Linked DNA regions of Homo sapiens. The protein of the gene in region 1 purifies or fractionates together with the protein of each later gene. This does not show direct contact. Each region holds a gene or a part of one and is shown on either strand. Other genes may lie near its edges. The genes, in order: TPR, SRSF11, PRDX3, GLRX, NUP133, COLGALT1 and TMOD3.

What was found.
Region 2: the proteins of TPR (region 1) and SRSF11 fractionate together in Homo sapiens (co-fractionation; one large-scale study listed by BioGRID). This does not show direct contact.
Region 3: the proteins of TPR (region 1) and PRDX3 fractionate together in Homo sapiens (co-fractionation; one large-scale study listed by BioGRID). This does not show direct contact.
Region 4: the proteins of TPR (region 1) and GLRX fractionate together in Homo sapiens (co-fractionation; one large-scale study listed by BioGRID). This does not show direct contact.
Region 5: the proteins of TPR (region 1) and NUP133 fractionate together in Homo sapiens (co-fractionation; one large-scale study listed by BioGRID). This does not show direct contact.
Region 6: the proteins of TPR (region 1) and COLGALT1 fractionate together in Homo sapiens (co-fractionation; one large-scale study listed by BioGRID). This does not show direct contact.
Region 7: the proteins of TPR (region 1) and TMOD3 fractionate together in Homo sapiens (co-fractionation; one large-scale study listed by BioGRID). This does not show direct contact.

What each region holds. Positions count from the first base shown.
Region 1 is NC_000001.11:186,365,254-186,368,753, forward strand, and holds part of TPR (nucleoprotein TPR), read right to left. Parts: intron 2,730-3,500; coding exon 2,633-2,729; intron 1-2,632.
Region 2 is NC_000001.11:70,234,880-70,238,379, reverse strand, and holds part of SRSF11 (serine/arginine-rich splicing factor 11), read right to left. Parts: intron 2,880-3,500; coding exon 2,830-2,879; intron 956-2,829; coding exon 828-955; intron 1-827. UniProt on the Homo sapiens protein: May function in pre-mRNA splicing.
Region 3 is NC_000010.11:119,172,313-119,175,812, forward strand, and holds part of PRDX3 (thioredoxin-dependent peroxide reductase, mitochondrial isoform a precursor), read right to left. Parts: intron 2,281-3,500; coding exon 2,139-2,280; intron 1,561-2,138; coding exon 1,425-1,560; intron 174-1,424; coding exon 70-173; intron 1-69. UniProt on the Homo sapiens protein: Thiol-specific peroxidase that catalyzes the reduction of hydrogen peroxide and organic hydroperoxides to water and alcohols, respectively. Plays a role in cell protection against oxidative stress by detoxifying peroxides.
Region 4 is NC_000005.10:95,813,349-95,816,537, forward strand, and holds the end of GLRX (glutaredoxin-1), read right to left. Parts: coding exon 3,165-3,189; 3' UTR 3,159-3,164; exon of another isoform or gene 3,148-3,158; intron 1,610-3,147; exon of another isoform or gene 1,042-1,609; 3' UTR 501-1,041; downstream 1-500. UniProt on the Homo sapiens protein: Has a glutathione-disulfide oxidoreductase activity in the presence of NADPH and glutathione reductase. Reduces low molecular weight disulfides and proteins.
Region 5 is NC_000001.11:229,484,342-229,487,841, forward strand, and holds part of NUP133 (nuclear pore complex protein Nup133), read right to left. Parts: intron 3,273-3,500; coding exon 3,125-3,272; intron 2,188-3,124; coding exon 2,030-2,187; intron 1-2,029. UniProt on the Homo sapiens protein: Involved in poly(A)+ RNA transport. Involved in nephrogenesis.
Region 6 is NC_000019.10:17,562,149-17,565,648, forward strand, and holds part of COLGALT1 (procollagen galactosyltransferase 1 precursor), read left to right. Parts: intron 1-3,500. UniProt on the Homo sapiens protein: Beta-galactosyltransferase that transfers beta-galactose to hydroxylysine residues of type I collagen. By acting on collagen glycosylation, facilitates the formation of collagen triple helix. Also involved in the biosynthesis of collagen type IV.
Region 7 is NC_000015.10:51,899,153-51,902,652, reverse strand, and holds part of TMOD3 (tropomodulin-3), read right to left. Parts: intron 2,499-3,500; coding exon 2,355-2,498; intron 762-2,354; coding exon 617-761; intron 1-616. UniProt on the Homo sapiens protein: Blocks the elongation and depolymerization of the actin filaments at the pointed end. The Tmod/TM complex contributes to the formation of the short actin protofilament, which in turn defines the geometry of the membrane skeleton.

The DNA.
Region 1 (3,500 bases):
CCCAGCTAATTTTTGTATTTTTAGTAGAGATGGGGTTCTGCCATGTTGACCAGGCTAGTCTCGAACTCCTGACCTCAGGTGATCTACCTGCCTCGGCCTCCCAAAGTGCTGGGATTATAGGCATGAGCCACCGTACCTGGCCAAGGGGCTGCCTTTAAAGTTCTTTTGACTTTAGACACTGTCCCTGGCCACCCAGAACCCAGGAGTTCAACATGGAAGGTGTCAAAGCAGTCTACTTGCTCCCAAACATGTTTCTAATTCAGCCTTTAGATCAGGAGTCATAAGGACCTTTACGGCTCAATAGAGATGATACTTTGTGAAAAGAAAATGTCAACACTGTGGAAGAGAACCCCAACAGAGAAAATATCATGAAAGTTTTAAAGGATAACACACTGAAGAGGCCATCCCTTCTTTTTCATTACAGAAAAAGTTATGAAAGCCATCAAGGCTGAAATAATAAATTCCTGTTGGAGGAAACTCTCCAGATGTTGTGCATGATGTCACAAAATTTGTAACAGAGCCAATCAAAGAAATCATGAAAGAGATTGTGGATATGGCAAAAAAAGTGGGATGAAGGGTTTCAAGATACGGACCTTGGAGAAATCCAAGAGCTAATAGCCACCATATCAGATAAATTAACAGAAGATGACTGGATGGAGATGAGTGCTTCCAAACCAGTGCCAGACGATGTGGAAAAAGAATGTAGAACTAGCAGTGTCAGAAAACATATTGGTAACAGACTATCTGGTGGAAGGGTTCTGATTACCCAAGACTGCTTTTGATTTCTTTTATGACATGGATCCTTCTCTTACATGGGCACTGAAACTATAGCAAACGGTGGAAGGAAGATTGGTAATGTATAGAAACATTTTTAGAGAAATGAAAAAGCAAGTCAGACAGAAATTAGGCTGTATTTCGTAAAGTTACATTGAGTGTGCCTCCCTCTTCTGCCTCCCCTTCTACCTCTGCAACCTGACCCAGCAAGACCAACCCCTTTTCTTCAGCCTAGGTAATGTAAAGACAAGGAGGATGAAGATGGTTGTGATGATCCACTTCCATTTAATGTACAGTAAACGTATTTTCTCTTCCTTATGATTTTCTTAACATTTTTTTCTCTAGCTTACTTTATTGAAGGAGCACAGTATATAATACAGATCACAGACAAAACGTATGACAATCTACTGTGTATGTTATTGGTAGGGCTTCTAGTTAACAGCAGTAGTTAAGTTTTTGGGGAGTCAAAAGTTACACATAAATTTTCAACTGTGGGGGGAATCAGCAACCCTAACCACTGTGTTGTTTAAGGGTCAACTGTAGTTCTCAACTCTCTTATTTTAACTTGTTTCTGCCATAGTTAATTACAAATTCAATTTCTACAAATATATGACAAAAAATTGAAATTTGTGTATCCAAACTTGTGAATTATCCAAATTTATTTTAAATACAGTGTGTTAAGCTAAATATTCAACGTTAACCTTAATTTTCCTGATATATATCCAAAGACCTATTAAAATTTTATAAATAATCATTAAGCTAAAAAGCACTAATATAAAAACCTACTCAATATGGAATACACATTTTTAAAAAACTATCTATTAAATATCTAGATTTTATGAATTCGTTTAGTTGTAACTACCACTTGTTGATCAACACACTCAAGTATTTTGAAGGAACTCTTGTGAGACTGGGAAAGTATACTTAACTAATGGAATATTATTGTATAATGATATAAATATCTGAAAATCCTTTCTTTTATAGAAATAAAAAAATTTCAAAAACCATTAAAAAAAAAAGAACCCAAAACACCTTTTTTTTTTTTTTTTTTTTTTTTGATACGGAGTCTAGCTCTGTCGCCCAGGCTGGAGTGCAGTGACGCAATCTTGGCTCACTACAACCTCCGGCTCCTGGGTTTAAGCAATTCTCTGCCTCAGCCTACAAAGTAGCTGGGATTACAGGTGCGTGCCACCATGACTGGCTAATTTCTGTTATTTTTAGTAGAGACGGGGTTTCACCATCTTGGCCAGGCTGCTCTTGGACTCCTGACCTCATGATCCACCCACCTCAGCCTCCCAAAGTGCTGGGATTACAGGCGTCAGCCACCGTGCCTGGGCACCAAAGGAAACTTCTTACCATTAACTGCTTCAGAGTCAAGTTCACCTGACTACATCAGCTGTATTATATACTACAGTCTATGTTTATGTATTTTATGTCTCTGCCTCCTTCAGTCTGTTTATAAATATAGGCTGAGTATATGTTCTTATATTGAATGCTTATTATATAGCAAGGATGTCCATATGAAATAAAGAACAGTAGTTCAGCCTTTGCAAATATTTAAAGTGCTTCCAATTTGACATTATGTACAGCATTGTAGTGAAAATCTTTGCATGTAAAATCTGGTCCAAATTACTACTTCTTTGAGATGTTCTTCACTTGTGCACTTTCTAGACACTTCTTTAAACACTTGACAATGATTTAAAGATAAATGAGTAGGAGAAATAATAGGATATGACAACTCTATACTCAACCATAACAAAAAAATATCAGCAACAGAAATGGGCTGAGCACTAACTCCTAGCACTAACAGAAGAAAAATAAAGGAATGGAGCTAAAAGCTACAAGCACTTCTTCATACCTGTTAAGTATTCAAGTTCTTGAGATAGTCTCTCATTGGTTCTAATTAAGTCTCTTTTCTCAGCTTCTAATTCTTCCTTTGTTCTTGTAAATTGGCTCTGTCATATAAAGAAGTAATAAGTAAGAAAATCAAGTAGAGCAATACAGGAAAGCGAACATAGAATTGTCACTTTAGTTAACATCAGCTGTAGTGTAAATGACTGGCTTTCTCTTATAACTTACACATCAAAGTTAAAAAATACCCGTAATTCCAATGTTTCTATTTAAATTTTGGATTTTTAAAACATTTTTACTAGGCTTATGAAAATTTTTCTCATATCTCTTTTAATCACATGGAAATGTCCTAATAACTTAGAATATCACTGTATTTACACCTTAGTTCAAATTATTTTTCAAGAAAGATTCCTAAAAATTGAATTACTTAAAACTTTTAATATATTTTGTCAGCCAGGTGCAGTGGCTCATGCCTGTAATCACAGCACTTTGGGAAATCAAGCTGGGCCGATCATTTGAGTCTAGGAGTTCAAGACCAGCTTGGGCAACACAGCGAAACCCAGTCTCTACAAGTAGAAAAAAACAGCCAGACATGGTGGCACATGCCTGCGGTCCCACCTACTCAGGAAGCTGAGGTGGGATGATCATTTGAGCCCGGGAGGCAGAGGTTGCAGTGAGCCAAGACTGCATCACTGCACTCTAGCCTGAGTGACAGAGTGAGACCCTGTCTCAAAAACAAAAAACTTGTCAAACTGCTTCCCAGCAAAACAATGGCAATCTACATGTTTTTGAGTTAGAAATATCTATCTCAAGCTACCTATGTCAGAACTGTAGGTTGCCTTTTAATATTCTTGTTTCCTGTGTAGAAGCTTTTT
Region 2 (3,500 bases), about 120 Mb from region 1:
TAAAAACATCAGTTCATAAAGAAACTACATTCAGTCACTTTAATCATATATTTTCAATATAAACAGCAGTTAGAACACGGTGTGTCATAAACTTTACATACACCCGGCTGTGCTATCTAAAAGTTCCTACTGCTTGCCATGTAACTGTGGCTAATTATTTGACATTTTCCTGGTTAAATAACATAATACATATAAAGCATTTGGTATCAGTTTATCCACTATTATACTTTAAAATTATTTTCCTAACAATAGGCACATTAAAAAACATTCCCATTTATTAATGAACAAGATATTTATAAGAAAGAAAATCCAGGGCCATAGATCTAAATATATATGGGCAGATAATATGATATCTATTCATTTACTCTCAAAAAGACAATCTGCAAAGAAGACAACTAATTTTCTTTAAAGAAATATCATTTTAAACAGAAGCATTTTCACTAGGTTCTCTTGATCAATGAAAAAAATTAAAATTAGGCTATCCCAACTTAGAAAAACATAAATAATAAGAAAAACAAAATATCGTTTCAAGTATTAGATAATCCTACTGACATTTTGGACTAGATTAACCACTGCTGTGGAAGGCTGTGCTGTTTGTTGCAGGATATCTAGCAACATGTTGGTCCTTTGCCCTCTAGATGCAGTTGGTACTCCTGTGACCACCAGAATTGTCTCCAAATACGTCTGAGTGGCACTCCACTATACAATCTTTTATCAGAGTTTACAACATTTTAAACGACTAGGGTGTCACTCAACACAATTCCACATTTATGTCAAAATCATTTTTGCTAAGAATCACACAACAAAATTGCATAAACATTGTTTACCTGGTTCTATAGCAGCAGAAATTAGGGACTGTGCTTCTCGTACTCTTTTCATAGCTTCCTCTATTTCTTTACTAGAGGTATCCGATTTCAGACTTGGTGAAACGAGACCAGCAGCTACATGATTCAACCTGAAACAGAACCAAGAAATGGGATCTGAAATATTTTAAAATGCACACGAGCATTTCAAATAAATACTTAAGTATATAACATTATTTTAGCAAAATATTCCTTCAAAAAAAGGGAGGGGAGGACTCCATGATAACTTTGGTAAACAACATATAGCATAGCACTGTTTTGAATATTTACAAGTATTTGTTTTAATGACTAAGAGTCATCTGGAATTAGAAAAATACCTATTTTGCTGAACATCCATTAACTTTCCATAAACAAACACATTTTTAGAAATGCCAGTACAAGAAAATATGCTGATGCTAAGAACTTTTATTCATATAAATTAAAAATTTTTGGGCCGGTGTGGTGGCTCACGCCTGTAATCCCAGCCCCTTGGGAGGCCAAGGCAGGTGGATCACGAGGTCAGGAGATCGAGATCATACTGGCTAACACGGTGAAATCCCATCTCTACTCAAAATACAAAAAACTAGCCAGGCATGGTGGCAGGCGCCTGTAGTCCCAGCTATTCGGGAGGCTGAGACAGCAGAATTGCTTGAACCCGGGAGGCAGACATCGCGCCACTGCACTCCAGCCTGGGCGACAGAGTGAGATTTCGTCTCAAAAAAAAAAAAAAAAAAAAAAAAAAAAATTTATGACATAGTAATTTTTTGGGGAAGAGCATTACCTTTTACTTTGTAGGTGGGGAGGAACTGAGGCAGAGGCCAAAGGCCTACCAAAATTACACATGAAGTCTTGAGTGGAAAGGCTAAAGATGCCCCTTACAGGTTTACACATGTAAAAAAAAAATTGTAGGCCGGGCATGGTGGCTCATGCCTGTAAGCCCAGCACTTTGGGAAGCCTTGGCGGGTGGATCATGAGGTCAGGAGATTGAGGCCATCCTGGCTAACACGGTGAAACCCCGTCTCTACTAAAAGTACAAAAAATTAGCCGGATGTGGTGGCTTGTGCCCATAGTCCCAGCTACTTGGGAGGCTAAGGCAAAAGAATTGCTTGAATCTGGGAGGCGGAGGTTGCAGTGAGCTGAGTTTGCGCCACTGCACTCCAGGTTGGGCAACAGAGTGAGACTCGTCTCAAAAAAAAAAAAAAAAAGAAAAAGAAAGAAGAAAGAAAAAAAAATTATAGACAACAAATTTAGTAGTTATTTGTGGGCAGAACAGGAAATGTAATAAATAATGGGTATATAGGAAGCTTCAACTGTATTGGTATTATTTTATTTTATAAGCTGGGTGATGGGTACATGCTTGGTTTTATTTTTAGATAATTTCTAAGAAAAAAGTCCACTAACTACTGAAGTCCAACGATTCTGTCCTTTTCATGCTCTCTCACTTACTGATAGTGACTTTCACCAAGTTAAGGGGAAAAGGTATAAAGTTCAAATTTATTATGCCAACAAATAACCAGTGAAAAAAACTGATGAATCTGTCACATCATCAAGTCGGAAACAATTTCTGTGACAGCATGAAGAGCACTTATCAAAAGCACCTAAAATAAAATGTTGGCTATTAATTATATAATATGTAATACTACTTTGCTCTGGGATAGTGATTCCCTCAGCTTTGCCTCTAACTCCTACTATCCTCAGGACTCAGCCTCTGATCTTCAAACGAAGTTGTCCCTTATTAGCTCTTTTGCTATCATCCAGGTATAAGTCATTTACAATTACTATTCAAGACTCAAATGACACTGAAACAAAATAGTTTAGAGGACCTTACTTACTTCTGTATTTCTCTCCTTGTTTCTAGGTAACAATACATATTGCTTGTCTTGAGAAAAGATAACTTGATAACTTTCTTATAAGCTATCAAAAAAACTCTAATTCTGTAGACATTCAGATACCACATCACCAATGAAAACAAAGAAAAAACGCTTACTTGGGATCAACAGTACTCATAAGCTTCAGCAACTGATCTGCAGCAAGAGACTGTAAAAATAAAACATAAGAATAATGAGAATACATAAAACAATAAATGACCGATATTTTCTAGGCAGAAAACTGAACAACAGAAATCCATGCAGACTACATGCCATGAAACATAAATTTTTTAGTAGCCACATTAAAAAAGAAAAAACAAAAACAAAAAACAAAACAAAACAAAACAAAAACCGGTGACATCAGTAGCTACAGTATTGGATAGAGCAGCTTTAGCAAGTTATCTAAAGATTATGAGGCTGAACAGTCTAGGTATTATAGAATTATGTCTCCTTTAAGACTTTTTGACATAAAGAAACATGTAAAACTCAAAACACCTTAGCCAATATAATGCAAAAGACCTCTACAAAGAACTTCAGAAAAAAAGGTTAGCTAAATTAAAATAAAAGAAAAATTTCCATGATAGAAAAATTATAAACCACATTCTTATCTTTTCATGACTATTTACTCTGACTCTATGACACACTGATAATGTACTGGCTTCTTGTGAATCTATTTTCTATTTTGAACTATATAAAAGAAATCCATTAATGGATAAAGGAGTTAGTCATTCAGTGACTGTTTAAAGCTCTGACAAGTTTAAACAAGAAAAAAAATTACTACAACATAGCC
Region 3 (3,500 bases), on another chromosome or scaffold:
ATCCCCTAAGAAGCAGAATGATACTAAACATGAAAAATAATCTTAAGTTCATCAGAAACAGGATCTTACCTTAGTGCAAGACCAGAACCTTCTAACAGCACACCGTAGTCTCGGGAAATCTGCTTAGTTAAGTCTGACAAGAGTGCGATGTTCATGTGGCCCAAACCACCATTCTAATCAAAATGCAAACATGACTGTTAGAATGTGTGGCCTCACAACATTCTTGACCACGTACCACAATGTTTGAGACCAACAGTAACGGCGATAGGTAACAGTAATTCAACAACGGGCCAAGCACTGCTTACTCTATTAACCTACTGCCTCCTCGAAACCACCCTGGAGAAGACACTATCAAAATGAGGAAACTGAGGCAAGAAAAACCTAAGTAACTTGTTCCAGGTCACAGCTAGAAAGGAGCAGAAGGAAGATTTACACCCGGCTAATACTATAGACCTTTTCCAATTTTTTTTTTAAGACACAGAGTCTCGCTGTCACCAGGCTGGAATGCAGTGATGCAATCACAGCTCACAGCAGCCTCAAACTCCTGGGCTCATGCAATCATCCTACCCCAGTCTCCTGAGTAGCTGGGACTACAGATGCTTTTTCTAATTCTTTATTATTTTATTTATTTATTTATTTATTTTGAGATGGAGTCTCGCTCTGTCGCCCAGGCTGGAGTGCAGTGGTGCGATCTTGGCTCATGGCAACCACCGCCTCCTGGGTTCAAGCGATTCTCCTGCCTCAGCCTCCCGAGTAGCTGGGACTACAGGCGCCCACCACCACACTTGGCTAATTTTTTTTATTTTTAGTAGAGATGGGGTTTCACCGTGTTAGCCAGGATGGTCTCGATCTCCTGACTTTGTGATCCACCTGTCTCGGCCTCTCAAAGTGCTGGGATTACAGGCGTGAGCCATCACGCCCGGCTGCTTTTTCTAATTCTTAAAGCATTCTTTTAAAGGCTAATTTTCTCAAACATAGACATGGAAGAGTAATAATAAAAAAAATACCTTGAGTAGGCCAGGTGTGGTGGCTCATGCCTGTAATTCCGGCACTTTGGGAGGCCAAGGTGGGCGGATCACCTGAGGTCAGGAGTTCGAGACCAGCGTGACCAACATGGAGACACCCCGTCTCTACTAAAAATACAAAATTAGCCAGGGGTGGTGACACATGCCTGTAATCCCAGCTACTCGGGAAGCTGAGGTAGGAGAATCGCTTGAACCCAGGTGGCGGAGGTTGCAGTGAGCTGAGATTGTGCCATTGCACTCCAGCCTGGGCAACAAGAGTGAAGCTCCGTCTCAAAAAAAAAAAAAAAAAAAAACCCAACCCTTGCGTAATTTGATCTTGATAGTCCAGCAGCATAGCTAGAAATTTAGATTCTTCCAAGCAAGTTTATAAGAGCAAAAGCTAGGGGTACAATGCCATACCTTTCTTGGTGTATTTATCCAGGCAAGATGGCTAAAGTGGGAATCCACTGAGACTGCGACAACTTCACAGTTCACGTCGTGAAATTCGTTAGCTTTGTCACTAAAAGCAACAATTTCTGTAGGACACACAAAGGTGCTGGAAAAAAAGGATAGAAATTCTCATTAGAGCATTTAAAAACAAGGATTTTAACAATTAGTGGTCTAACAACTAGTTCAACTTGCTAAGGGTAAAAAAGGCAAAATGGTTTACCATCCTCACTGGACTATAGTGTTGTGCTGGCAAAAGTACTACTACCTCCCCTCACCTTTTTATTTTTAGGAATTGTATCAAAAAATGGGGAAAGGGAACACATATTTTAAGAAAAAAAAATTACAGTTCAATAAAGTTGCTTTTTGAAAAAAATCATTTTATTATGCCTACTTTTCTCATTTTTCCCCAGACCAGTGAAAACTTTTTCATAGACTGGCTTAGGGAAGCAGTGCTCCAGAGCACAGAGGTGTACTATAAAGAAAGCTGTCCTACCCCACCCCCGAAGTTTATCACTTGTAAACAAGCTACAGATCCCAGCTGTAATCAACAAGGCCATCAGTGATAAAGGGTCAGAAAGAATCCTTCCTTTCACAAGGGTATCTAGGGATAGACAATTCAGTGTGGGAACAGGATATGTGCTTGCTCTCAGAATGACACGAAAGCATCATAGAAATTACACTTACAAATCCAAAGGATAGAAGAAAAGCACCAAATATTTCCCCTTAAAGTCATCAAGGCTTAGGTCTTTGAACTCTCCATTGACAACGGCTGTACCCTTAAAATAGGGTGCATGCTGGGTGACAGCAGGTGCATGGCATGAGGAACCTGAAAAAAAACCCACACTCATATGGAGTTCATCATTTGCTATGTCAAGCACCTATGATTTTATTTAAACTTCTCATAATTAATTAGTAGTATAAAGTGCTTAGTATAAATCAAAACATTCGGTTCAACTGTACATCTTAGGCACAGTCATCCTTTGCCACCTGTGGGGGGATTGGTTCTAGGATATCGAAATCTACAGATGCTCAAGTCTCTTACATAAAGTGGTGATTTGCATATAATCCACACACACCCTCCAGTATACTTAAATCATCTCTAGATTACTCATAATACCTAATACGACGTAAATGCTACGTAAATAGTCGTTAAGCTGTATTGTTTAGGGAATGACAAGAAAAAAAGACTTTGTGTTCAGTATAGACACAACCATCCATTTTTCCCTCCCAATATTTTCGATTCAACCAACCACAGATGCAGAATCCAGATACAGAGGGCCAACTGTAATTTCTCCTTCTATAGTTTTAGATTGTGCACAAATTCAATTCCAACTGCTACAGAAACTAAAAAGAGGAAGACAAAGTAGGGATAGAATTAAGGAAGACATGAGACTAGAGATGGATTTTAAATATGGTTCAGATTTTGTCAAGTCTAGATGGGATGGGGCAGATGGCATGTAGGAAACAGCAGGAAGGAAGACAGGACATGTGTGTGGAGCAGCGTGTGGCAGTCTAATGAGAACAGAGAGTGTCTAAGGGTACGGAGTGAAGAGCAGGCAGCAGGCAGGAATGGTTGAAGGCCATGTTGCAACAGTCCTTAAATACTAGGCTGCTGGGTCTTCTTAGCAGGAAAGATAACAGAGTCAAGGGCGGAGTCTCGCTCTGTTCGCCCAGGCTGGAGTGCAGTGGCACAATCTCAGCTCACTGCAAGCTCTGCCTCCTGGGTTCACGCCATTCTCCGGCCTCAGCCTCCCGAGTAGCTGGGACCACAGGCGCCCGCCACCCCGCCCGGCTAATTTTTTGTATTTTTAGTAGAGATGGGGTTTCACCGTGTTAGCCAGGATGGTCTCCATCTCCTGACCTCGTGATCTGCCAGCCTCGGCCTCCCAAAGTGCTGGGATTACAGGCGTGAGCCACAGTGCCTGGCTGAGATGGGGGTTTTTAGGAAGATTAGTCCGGCAGGAGGGAAAGAGGAGCAGGAGGAAGGGGGAGACATGTTAGGAGGTGGTTTCAGTGATTTTTTTTTTTTTGAGACAGAGTTTCGCT
Region 4 (3,189 bases), on another chromosome or scaffold:
CCAGAAGAGGGAACGATGATTTTTCAGTCAAAAGGCCATGAGAGGAGAGAGAAAATATAGGGGAAATGATCTGTAAATCAGGCCTTGAACGAGGAGGAGTTTCAAAGTAAAACAAAGAAGAAAAGGCATCTCAGGAGAAAGAAACACAATGAACATGGACAAAGAAGTGTGAAAGTGCAGGCAAGTGGTCCAGAGTGGATCAGATACTATAACCTCCGGTGGGAGGGCTTTCATATTGTGCAGTGTGTAAACTGAACAATTATCCATAGCAATCCTGGTGTAAACTGAACAATTATCATAGCAATCCTGGTTGAAGGGAGTGGTTAGGGCCCACAAAAGAAAGAAGCGAGAAGTACAAGGGCCTTAAGTGGGAAATGGCAAAAAGGAATATGAAATGAAAAAGACTGTTATTAAACCCTAAGCATTATTCAGTAAGCCAGGGCTGGCATTTATTTCAATATGAAATTTCAAAATTATATCAGCCATTTGTACTCAGTGAGTGACAGCAGCACGTGTCTTTATTTATAATGGCAGGGCCAAATATAAACACAGTTTTAAGTTAGTGTATTTCGCATAACATTCCTTAATGTCTTGAGAACATGCAAATGAATTGGACAAAAATCACTGAATCATCTATAGGTTTTTTTTATTAGAAAAGAAATTAAGTGTTGTCACTAGAGATTGAAGGAAATTAACAATCTTACAATTCTAGAACAGGCAAACTTCATGATAAGGGATTCTTAAGTTTTCAAAGTGTAGGAGCTCTTTCACAGATACACTCTTGGTGTAGGGGGCTGTAAGTTTTATCAGATGTTTTACATTTCATGCTTTAATCTTTGCTGGTAGTCTAAATAAAATAAATACACAGTGTTCAGGATTATCTGGATAGCCATCTTAAATAACAGAGTGTTCCGCATGACCACAGCCTCTGCACTTGTGCCTCTGATCCATATGACACCAAGACCAACTATGCTTTTCATATGATTTCTCCAATTGGGTCCTGTGACCTTTCACAGAATTGTTGAACATTTCCTATGAGATCTGTGGAGGACAAGGTGGAGAACACTGGTTCAGAGCAGTGATTTTCAAGGTGGGATGGGATGGGGTGGAGTTGAGTGGAGAGATGCATGTAGTTAGAAAGAACACATTCAAAATACCCACTGATTTCATAATACAAACTCCATAAAGTCAAGCAGCAAAATGATTTTAGCTAATGGGCAGTAGCAGATAACCAACTGTGGATTCATCATTGTGGAGAAGGAGTCTGGATAAACATAGTTGAAAAACACTGGCTTAGAGGTAGAGACATGCCGACACATGGAGAACAGTAAGAAACGCATGCCAAAGAGGACAATTGAGGGTCAGTGAGCGAATCCTGGGCCAGAACTTGTCACAGTCTTCTGAAAACCAAAGAGCACATCCAGAAGAAAACCAAGATGGCCCGTCAACCTTCTTGGCCCTGTGATTAAGAGCAAGTTGGTCCACTTTTAAATACTGAGCCAAAAGAGGAAAAAAGCTGTTTGTGCCCCCAAATTCATCCACCAGAAGTGCTGTCATCATTTGCAATGCCATCCAGCTCTTGAGGAGGGACGTCAGCATGGGGCCTGTTCTGCCAGGAAAGAAAGAAGGGATCTCCTTGTAAGGCAAAATCCTTCCTTTCTCTCATTACCAGAACACTTACACCTGCCATTTAAACACACTCTGTTGCAGATGGCCTTGAGATGCAGCTGCCAGTAAAATACTGACAGCATAGAACACTGAAGGAAAAGGCCAAATGCAAATAAGGAGACTTTCTGAATATGGGGGACTCTAATGCCCACACCAAAATAGAAGCAGTTGGAGAAATAACATTTCCCATCTTCTCTCATTCTTAATCTAAGCCTAAATTGCTAAACATGTCCCAGAATAGGAAACCATTAATTGGGTTTGAGTGCTTTTAGTACCAGTGGTAAGGCCAGGAAGTGAACTCAGACAGACATAGGGTGCACCTGCTGTGATGATATCGTAGAATTCTGATTAGAAGATTTATAGCATTGACTATTTCATTTCAGAGAAATCAGTGGTATTTTTTCAGACCTTTTTCCCCCTTCTGTTGCTATGCTGAGTAACCATCACAAATAATGTATACTCATTGCCCAAGAAATGAGTTATTAATTAGCAGGCAATAGATACCCCTCCAAGAACATTTTGGTTAAAGAACCATTCATTTCTCCCTCAACTAAAGCAGCATTTACATCTCTCTGGGTACAGGTCTCTGAATTGGCCTGCTTGGGAGCTAGCTAGCGCTAGCTGTGCTGGGGAACTGGGGGAGGGAGGAGCTCAGACTCCAAAACCATCACGGTTCCCTTCTGAAATGTTCATCGCCCTGTGGTTTTCCACAGAGCCAAAGATCTCCTTTAGGTTACTGATTTTAGAAAACTTTGTTTTGGCTTTTGGGAAGCCAATTAAATAGAGTTGATTTGCCAAGTGAACACAGGTAAAGCCAAAATGACCTGTGTTTCACATTGCGTTTTGAATAAATCCAAATTGTTTACCATGGCCTGGGTGCTCTGGCCCCTGCCCACCTTTCTCGCTATTCTTCCTTTTCACTGCACTTCATTCACTCTATTCCTGCTTTCTTTCTGTTCCACGAACATCCCTTACCTGTTGCCACCTCAGAGCCTTTGCACTTGCTATTCCCTCTGCCTGAAAAGCTCTTCTGCTTCATCTCTGCATAGCAGTCCCCTTGTTAACCAGGTCTCAGCTCAACCCTTCCTGAGAAAGGCCCTCCCTTACCATGTTAGCTCAATTTTCTCCCCACCCCATGACATATTCTGTCACATTATTCTATTCTATTTCAGGATTTGCTTGTTTTTGATCTGTCTACCTCTCTAAAATATAAGTTCCAGGTTATCATTTTATGCATCATTATATTCTCATGTGTCTGGCACATGCTTAATAAATATTTCTTAAATGAAGCTTGAGTGAAAGGATTTCTCTCATTGACACGATCTCTTTGTAAAGTGTGAAATTCATAAGTGATTGACATCACCATTCCTCAACTCACCCCAAATCATTTCTTCCCCCAACCAGAATGCTGTCATACAGTATAACAAACCACGACAGAAGAATTCCACGGTCTCCCATGTTCCTGGCCCAGCACCTCACCTGCCACTCACCTGTGGTTACTGCAGAGCTCCAATCTGCTTT
Region 5 (3,500 bases), about 43 Mb from region 1:
TACACTAACATTAATGATAGCTGATGAGTTAAAAAAAAAAAAATTTATGTTTCAAGCAAGTTTACGAATTTGTGTTGGGCTGCATTCAAAGCCATCCTGGGCCGCATGCAGCCCATGGGTTGTGGGTTGGACAAGCTTGGTCCATACCAATTATTCATATACTTATTGAAACACTATAAATAGCATCAAATGATCAACCAAAGTCATACAGAAAAGGTACAGGTAATTCAGGGATTATGTTGTAAGTAAAATAATTTGGACATTTCATCATAATTAACAGAATCTTTTTATAGGTTTGCTCTTACACGACTCATCACAGTGTATACTACCTAAGCATAATGGTTGATTACAAATTTAAACAACGGTTTAGAAAAATTTTAAAGAAATGGAATACTATAAAATTGCTTCAGAATGTATAACAGTATTATAATAACCATACAATTACAAAATAGATATTAATCCTTTTTTGTAATCGTATTAATTACAAAATACAAGGTATTTTGTACTTTGTATAATTTTGTATAATTACAAAATACAAAATGCAAGGTATTAATCCCTTTTGTGAAAAGAAAAAAAAGTTAAAAATTGTTTCTTTCCTTTAAAACTACACTTAATCACTTTAATTTGAATTACAGAGGTAGTCTATATATTTCATACACTATTCAAATGGAAATTACCCCAAACAGTATTAATTATTTTTAGTCTTCTGTAAAAGAATGATAAAAATCTTATGGATAGGATATTTCAGGTTTCAAGACAACAGAATAAAATTGGTAATTTTTACCTGGCTATTCCTCTCAAAAAATCATCCCAGAATAAAAAGAAACAGAAATACAAGCTCCTTGGAAATATCTGTGATACTAACTACAACAAAGGAAGATAGAAAGCAGAAGGAATGGGAAATGGCCCCGCTGACAGGAGATGAGGCCACCTATGCATGGTGCAGAGGACAGGTCCTGAGGATTTGAGGACAATAGAAAAGGGAAGTTCTGGGATGACAGCTGTGCAGATGGAAGGTTTCTGGAGACTTGACTTTGGGAAAAACTACATTGAGGGGCACTCTACAGAACTCCTGGAGTGTGTAAAAAGATTAAGTCACATATGAAAGGAAAGTGAGAAAATACAAAACGAGGTCATTATACACTCCAAGAGTCACACAAAGTTCTATAATAAAGGACATGTAATCAGTATTTGGGATCAGCAAACCATAAACAATATTTACATTGTCATTACAATGAAAAAAATTTATGTTAGAATGATAAAGGCAGAGGAAGGAGTATAAGGTAACCCAAAACCTCATTTTCTGTAGTAGAAAATCAACAGATGCATCAGGAGACAGGAATATATGTACATTACTTAGATATATGGAGAAAAATACCAGAATAAATCACTAAAAGGCTTAAATGTAGTTGCTCCAGGCAAAGAGGACAGAAGGGATGAGGAAGATAAAAAGAACTAATGTCTGCATCATTACGTCTTTGAAAACTGTCTCAGTTTTGAGACCATTTGTATAAAATAATCTGATAAAACTAAAAATTAGGCTGGGCATGGTGGCTCCACGCCAGTAATCCCAGCACTTTGGGAGGCCGAGGCGGGAGGATTCTTGAGCCCAGGAGTTTGAGACCAGCCTAGGCAACATAAGGAGATCCTGTCTCTACAAAAAATAAAAAATTAGCCAGGTGAGATGGCGCATGTCTGTAGTCCCAGCTATTTAGGAAGTTAAGAGGGGAGGACTGCTTGATCCCGGGAGGTTGAGGTGAGGCTGCAGTGAGCTATGATTATGCCACTGCACTCTAGCCTGGGCAACAGAGTGAGACTCTGTCTCAAAAACCAAACCAAACCAAAAAACAAAAAATTAGCCAGGCACCTACTGGGAAGTCTGAGGCAGGAGGATTGCTTGAGGCCAGGAGTTTGGGGCTGCAATGAACTACGACTGTGCCACTGCACTCTAGCCTGGGTGACAGCGTGAGACACTATCTCTAAAAAATAAATAACATAAAAACTTCAAATTCTTATCGAATCACATTACCTCACTGTTTGGTCCAGCAACTGAAGATGCTAAAGACCCTTCCAAGTCTTCTGCCAATATAGACACATTTTCCCTTGAAGTAATAGACACCAGTCCACTGTTTCTAGAAAAAATGATAGGAACACCACCACAGGCACCAGCACCTAAAACACTATCTCCTAAAAGAAAGGAAAACAGAGTCAAATACATCTAACAATAACAACAAAATGCTATGTAAAAGCTACCACCCTAAGCAGAAAATCATCTTGATGATATATTAAGCACATTTTTTCCTTTACAACATTAGTCCTACTTCGAACTCATCCTTTACATCCCAGAATCAAATGCTAAGAACCGGTTGCTATCTGAAGAAGCAGGCTCTGTGTCTTTCAGCTTTAAGGACAATAAAAACTAGCCTTGCCAGACAGCAGTCAGTCTAGTAAGCCAAAAAAGAAAATTATTCCTTCTGCAAAACTCAGAAGAAGAGCTTTTTCAATCCTGTGGAGTTCTCTTAATTCTGACTTTAACTTACCACATCAGTCAATGGGGACTGGAAAAAAAAAAAAAAAAAAAAGGTCTAAGCCTACCTGGCACCTTAGTAACATCCTACCCACCCTCTGTCAAGGTTCTTGTGCTGGGACTAGAAAACCTGGGTTCCATGCTGTTGCCTACCTGCACTCTGTCCTCTGCCCAACCCCTTCAGCTAAGTATCTGCTTGGTTCTTCTTCAATCCTGACCAGCCCCCCTGCATAAGTCCAGCACCTGAAGCTCTTCTTATCTAGGGGTGTGGAAAAGTTAAAGCATCAACTCAGAATATGTCACTTTTACTAACTAGGAATAAGCAATTACTTCTCTTGGCAATAGTTTTTTGCTTCTTGGCATCTTCTCCTGGAACAAATGTTACTATCTTTGTCTGTAAATATAATAGTTTGGAAATTCTAGTACCCTTTTGGTTTCTTAGTAGGGTTATGGCTTCAGCTGCTGTAGTTGTGGTATGAAATGTCTCAGAAACATTTGAAAGCAGCATGCTTGAAGTGACATTCAGGGAAAGAGAAAAAAAGCACTCAGAATGACTAATGAGCTCACCAATCATGCTTTCTAAAACTGCTACTGTACCTTGTGCATTAAAGACAATTTTCTCCTGGGGAAGAGAAAATTTCCCAGTTCCTGTGGAGCACACATAGACAGCACTTTCGTTATACAGATAGGCAGTCTGGTTTGAAAAGTTTGGGACCGTCAACTGACACAAAATCAGGTCTTCAGACTGAAAGTTAAATTTAAGATTACATTTAACAAGAAGTAAAACAAAAATATTTGTATGATTTTTTAAATTCATTTTTGTACATTATTTCATAAAAATATTTCACCAATTCTCTTTGTAAAAATCTGAACACTACCCATGAGATGATTAACAAAACATGACAGAGTAAGTTTATAAACATCAATTAGACATATATTTTGTTGACTTGCTTATAATTTGCTTTTTTAATTT
Region 6 (3,500 bases), on another chromosome or scaffold:
GGTGTGAGCCACCACATCCAGCCCATCTCTTAAAACAAACAAACAAAAAGCAGAAAAGAAAAAGCAAAGAGTCAAGTGAGCAAAGTGATTACGATGCAGTGGTGGCTAGAGGTCCAACTACACAGGCCAGTGGAGGCACTTGGTGTCTACTTGGAGGGGAATGGGGAGCCATGGAGGGTGTGTGAGCAGGGGAGGTCTGTGTTCTGATTTGAGATTTTCAGAAGCCTCTGTGGACCAGGCGCGGTGGCTCATGCCTCTAAATTCAGTACTTTGAGTGGCTGAGGCAAGTGGATTGTTTGACTTCAGGAGTTTGAGACCAGCCTGGTCAACATGGTGAAACCCTGTTTCTACCAAAATATAAACATTAGCTTGGCATGGTGATGCGCGCCTGTAACCCCAGCTACTTGGGAGGCTGAGGCAGGAGAATGTCTTGAACCCGGGAGGCAGAGGTTGCAGTGAGCTGAGATTGCACCACTGCGCTCCAGCCTGGGCGACAGAGTGAGACTATGTCTCAAAAAAAAAAAGCCACACACTAGCAGGAAGCTGGAGTAGAGGCCCAAGCAGGGTATCAGCGATTGATGGACAGGCCTGCATGGGGTGGGGGCCGTGGAGAAAGGCAGGGGGTTCAGGATGCGTCACGAGGTGAAGGAGACAGGTTCTGCTTTGACACTGGATGTGAAGGTGCCAGGGAGAGAGGAACGGGGACAGTGCCACATCTAGGGAGGACGGATGGAGCTCCTGAGGGGACCCTTTCGCTTGGTGCCTTATCAGACCATTTTATAGGTGAGGAAACAGGCTGACGGAGGGGACATCTTGCCTGGTGGGGTGTCAGAACTGGCAAGGAGGCAGAGAGGTGGATCTGGAGCCTTCCAGAGCCTTCTGACACAAAGCTGCCTTGTCCTGCCTCTAGGATTTTGCTTTTGTGGTTTGAGGTTGCCTGGCTTTAGCTTTTTTTTCCCTCAGCAAACCGGGGTGGAACTCAAAGTGCTGGTTCAAAACTCAAAGTGGCTTTTGACACAAAATAATATTTTCGTGTTTCTTTTTTTTTTTTTTTTTTTTTGAGACAGTGTCTCACTCTGTCGCCCAGGCTGGAGTGCAGTGGCGCGATCTTGGCTCACTGCAGCCTCCACCTCCTGGGGTCAAGTGACTCTCCTGCTTCGGCCTCCCAAGTAGCTGGGACTACAGATGCTTGCCACCATGCCCGGCTATTTTTTTTTTTGTGACGGAGTCTCACTCTGTCGCCCAGGCTGGAGTGCAGTGGTGCGATCTCAGCTCACTGCAAGCTCTGCCTCCCAGGTTCATGCCATTTTCCTGCCTCAGCCTCCTGAATAGCTGGGACTACAGGCGCCCGCCACAACACCCGGCTAATTTTTTGTATTTTTAGTAGAGACAGGGTTTCACCGTGTTGGCCAGCATGGTCTCGATCTCCTGACCTCGTGATCCACCCGGCTTGGCCTCCCAAAGTGCTGGGATTACAGGCGTGAGCCAGCGCGCCTGGCCCGACTAATTTTTTTTGTATTTTTGTAGAGACAGGGTTTCACTATGCTGACCAGGCTGATCTCGAACTCCTGACTTCAGGTGATCCACCCACCTCGTCCTCCCAAAGTACTACTGGGATTACCGGTGTGAGCCACTGCGCCTGGTCACAAAATTATATTTTTGTAACTGGGGACTTTGGAACCCATATTGGAATGTGAAATAGTTTGTCTAATGTTTTAAAATGATTGTTTGAAGGTCCCCCTTTCTCTCTCTTTTTACAAAAGCTATGGATGTTACTTGCAGGTAAAAAAAATAAATAAAAATATACGAGCTGGGTGTGTCTCACGCCTGTAATCCCAGTGCTTCAGGAGGCCAATGTGGGAGGATCATTTGAGGTCAGGAGTTCAAAACCAGCCTGGGCAACATAGTGAGACCCCCCCCATCTCTACAAAAACTAACAAAAAAAAAAAATTAGCCAGGTGTACTGGTTTGTGTCTGTAGTCCCAGCTAATTGGGAGGCTGAGGTGGGAGGATTGCTTGAGCCCAGGAGTAGGAGGCTGCAATCAGCCATGATTGTGTCACTGTACTCCAGCTTGGGTGACAGAGCGAGACCCTTTCTTAAGCTTCGTATATGTGTATGTGTGTGTGTATGTGTGTGCGTGTGTGTATACATATATACATATATACGTGTATATGTATATATATCTATATATGTATATAAACATATATACGTGTGTGTGTGTATAATATAGATATACATATGAAACAAGAAAGAAAAACATCTACTTTTTTTTTTTTTTTTTTTTTGAGATGGAGTCTCATTTTGTCACCCAGGCTAGAGTGCAGTGGCGCCATCTCGGCTCACTGCAACCTCTGCCTTCTGGGTTCAAGCAATTTTCCTGCCTCAGCCTCCGGAGTACCTGGGATTACAGGTGCCCGCCACCATGCCTGGCTAAGTTTTTGTATTTTTAGTGGAGATGGGGTTTCGCCATGTTGGCCAGGCTGGTCTTGAACTCCTGACCTCAAGTGATCACCTGCCTCAGCCTCCCAAAGTGCTAGGATTGCAGGCGTGAGCCACCGCCCCTGGCCAGCATCTAAATTTTAATTGTATCTCCTGGAGAGATTCACTTTCTCCTCTTTCTTGTTTGTTTTAATTGAAGTCAGTTCACATATATATTTATTTGTTTTGCAACCACCACCTCTAATTCTAGAACATTTTCATTCCCCAGAAAGAAAACCCTATTCCCATCAGCAGTCACTCCCCAACTCCCCATTCCTCTCCCCTAGGCTCTGGCAGCCACTAATCTGCTTCCTGTCTACGGATTTGTCAATGGAATGTCACACTATATGGCGTTTCGTGTCTGGTTTCTCTCACTCAGCATTGAGTTTTCAGGGTTCATTACAGCCTGGATCAGTGCTTCCTTCCTTTGTATGGCTGACTCTTATTCCGTTGTCTGGGTGGACCACGTTATGTTGATCTCCTCATCCGTTGATGGACACACTTCAGTCACTTCCACCTTTTTTGGCTGTTGAGACTTTTTTTTTGAGACAGAGTGTTGCTCTGTCGCGCAGGTTTGCAGTGCAGTGGCACGATCTCGGCTCACTGCAACCTCCATCTCCTGGGTTCAAGCGATTCTCCTGCGTTAGTCTCCCGAGTAGCTGAAATTACAGGCATGTGTCACCATGCCCGGCTAATTATTTTTATTTATTTTTATTTTTAGTAGAGACGGGGTTTCACCGTGTTGCCCAGGCTGGTCTTGGACTCTTGACCTCATGTGATCTGCCTGCCTTGGCATCCCAAAGTGCTAGGATTACAGGTGTGAGCCACTGCACCCGGCCTGGCTGTTGGGATTCTGACATGAACATGAGCGTACAAAGACCTGTTTGAATTATCTGGGCATGGTGGTGCGCGCCTGTATTTAATCCCAGCTACTCAGGAGGCTGAGGCAGGAGAATCATCTGAACCTAGGAGGTGGAGGTTGCAGTGAGCCGAGATCACACCACTGCACTTCAGCCTGGGT
Region 7 (3,500 bases), on another chromosome or scaffold:
AAAAAAAATACAAAAATTAGCTGGGCACGGCGCGCACGCCTGTAGTCCCAGCTACTCGGGAGGCTGAGGGAGGAGAATCACTTGAACCTGGGAGGCGGAGGTTGCAGTGTGCCGAGATGGCGCCACTGCACTCCTGCCTCGCAACACAGCGAGGCTCCGTCTCAAAAAAAATCAACAACAAAAAACCTGGGTGAGAAATATAATTATTCTCTATTTTATATATTTCTATATCCACATTCTATCATATAAAATTGAATTTCTATCTGGGTCCGCTTGATTAAAAGGGCAAAAAACTTTCCGATAATGTTGAAATCTTTGTTTCAATAGTTCCAAGGACTGATCTGTAACTGAGAACAAATTGTTTGTTGTAGAAAACTGGTCACTTAAAACTATGAAATACGCTTGTCACAGGAAGCTGATTTTACCCATTGACCCAATCATCACAACCTCACTTTAATTGAACTTGAATTCAATCAGTATATAAAGGACCATGCAGATTTTAGAAACAAAGGCCAAATAACTTCTCTGTTAGAATTTATTCTTAAGAGGGAAAGAAGTTCCCCCAATACGTTAGCTTGTGATAGAACTCAGAAACTTGATCGATACTATGTCTTACCTAAGTCATTGTTTTTTGTTATAGCATTAGCTGCTCTGGTTCGTGGTCCCTGCTGTGTAAACTGATATCCAAATTTAAGGATATTTGTATTTTCCTCAAGCATCTTGGCCATTTCCAATTCTACAGCTGTCCCCAACTGCTGCCTCTGGAGTAATTAGAAAAAAAGAACAATATTAATAAACTAGATCAAAATACTTTTCAAGGTAAATTAAGACATTCAGGCACATGCTAATTCTTTGATCTCTTTAAATGTTCCCAATTCCTACAACATATACATAGTTCAGTAGTTCCAAGTACTGATTTGTAACTGAGAACAAATTGTTTGTTGTAGAAAACTGGTCACTTAAAGCTATGAAATGTTTGTCACAGGAAGGGGATTTTACCCATTGACCCAATCATCACCACAGCCTCACTGGAACTTTATACACACACACACACACACACACACACACACACACACACACTAAACTTTTTAAAGTTCAGTAATATGATCATATAGACATCAAAAAAGTGTGAATTACTATAATGACATATCACTTCATACCCACTAGGATAAGTATAATAAAAAAGATAGATAATAACAAGTGTTGGCAAGAATGTGGAAAAATGGGGACATTGCTGAGAGGAATGTAAAATGGTACAGCTACTGTGGAAAACTGGCTGCTGCTCAAAAAGTTAAACATAGAGTTACCATGTGACCCAGCAATACACTCCTAGCTATATACTGAAGAGAAATGAAAATCTATGTCCATGTTAGAGTTTGTAATGAATGTTCACAGCAGCATTATTTCTAGTGGCCCGTATGTGGACACACCCCAAATGGAATAGAATATTATTCAGTCATAAAAGAATGAGGTCCTGATGTATGCTACAATACAGATGAACCTCCAGAACATTATGCCAGGTGAAAGAAGCCAGGCACAAAAAGATCAAATATTGTTTGATTCCACAGATATAAGCTGTCCAGAATAGGCAAATCCTAAGAAACAGAAAGTGGATGAGTGATTGCCAGAGCCTGGTGAGAGGGGTGAATGGGGAGTGACTGCTAATGGGTATGGGGTTTCTTTTTGGGGTAATGAAAATGTTCTGGAATTAGTGGTAATGGCTGCAAAACTCTACAAATATACTAAAAACCATTTAGCTGTATACTTTAAGAAAATGAATTTTACTGTATGTAATTATATCTCAATAAAAAAATGAAAAACATGGATTATGAAGCACTGGGTTAAATTTTAAGACATAATCCTCTTTTCCACCTTCATAGTTTACAAAATGTATTTACTTTGAAGGACTGAAGGAGACATTTAACAAATATTTTTTCAAATAAATGGAGTTATTTTTTCAAATAAAAAAATTAATAGCTACTCTGGATGGAAACATTTCTAACATGTATCTCTCTGCCTTTTACAAAAACCCTACAATGTGGACCTTGCCAGCACAGAGCTGAAAAATTGGAAGGTGGACTAGGTCACATGTAAGAGTCCTCTCAGTTCAAACTAGATAGCCATCTAAATTCTCTTAAAATGATCTAGGGAGAGTATACACCTTTACATTGTATACACTGTTATATACACTGAGTTAATATTCTAGATACCCCAAATGTCAGCTCTCCTTTCAGCCCAGCATCTTCCAACAGGGATCCCTGACAGCCCGCCTCCCATCCCCATCCTGAGTCGCCAAGCCCTACACAGCAGCGTGGGCTGTAGCTTCCTCGACGTTATTATTGTAGAACATTGACCTGATTGTCAATCTTGAGCTCTGCCAGGGTTTCATTATCTCTTAACGCATCAATCAGTGCCAGAATCCCAACTCCCGTGATAAAGTTGGACTCCACATTTAAGCTCTTCAAAGTTTTGTTCACTTTCAGCATTTCTGCAAAAGCCTAGAAATTAGAGAAAATATTAAGAGATTAAAATTTGATACAGTACCTACTACATATTGTACATGCCATAAATAAATACATTAATTAACTGCCTTAATGTTTGTCATTAGTTGTTTCAGTTTGACACAGTAGCCCATAGCTCTCACATGTACAGTTGTCCCTCAGTATTTGTTGGGGGTTGGTTCCAGGACCATCTGCAGATACCAAAATCTTCAGATGCTCAAGTGCCTTATAGAAAATGGCATAGTATTTGCATATAACCTTCACACATGCTCCTGTATACTTTTCATTACCTCTAGGTTACTTAATATACCTAATACAATGCCTACACATCACTTCATTTTTGTGGATTCAACATAGTACCTGGCATACAGCAAATTCAGATTTTGCTTTTGGAAATTCATAGAATTTTTTTCCAAATATTTTTGATCTGAAGTTGGTTGAACCCATGGATGACTGTATCTACTTTTCTTTCTTTTTTTTTTTTTTGAGACAGGGTCTTGCCCTGTCACCCAGGCTGGAGTGCAGTGGCAGGATCACAGCTCACTGCAACCTCTGCCTCCTGGGCTCAATTGATCTTCCCACCTCAGCTTCCTGAGTAGCTGAGACTACAGTTGTGTGCCACCATGCCCGGCTAATTTTTGTATTTTTTGTAGAGATGGGGTTTCACCATGTTGCCCAGGCTGGTCTCAAACTCCTGGGCTCAAGCAATCCACCCACCTCGGCTTCCCCAAGTGCTGGGATTACAGGTGTGAGCCACTACACCTGGCCTGTACCTATTTTTCATATGTACCCAGTCATAATCTTTTGATTTTTTGGTCACATGTAATTCCCCGTTGGTGACATTCTCTACTCCTCATTCCCTACTTCATGCTTCTTTCTTCTGTCTCTCTCACTCTTTCAGTTTCTGTGTTAGACCAACTTCATCAATGTCGCTGTAACATCTTTTCTTATTTGGGTCTTGCTGTAGCTGGATCATGTGAAGCCAAAATGAGGGTAAAT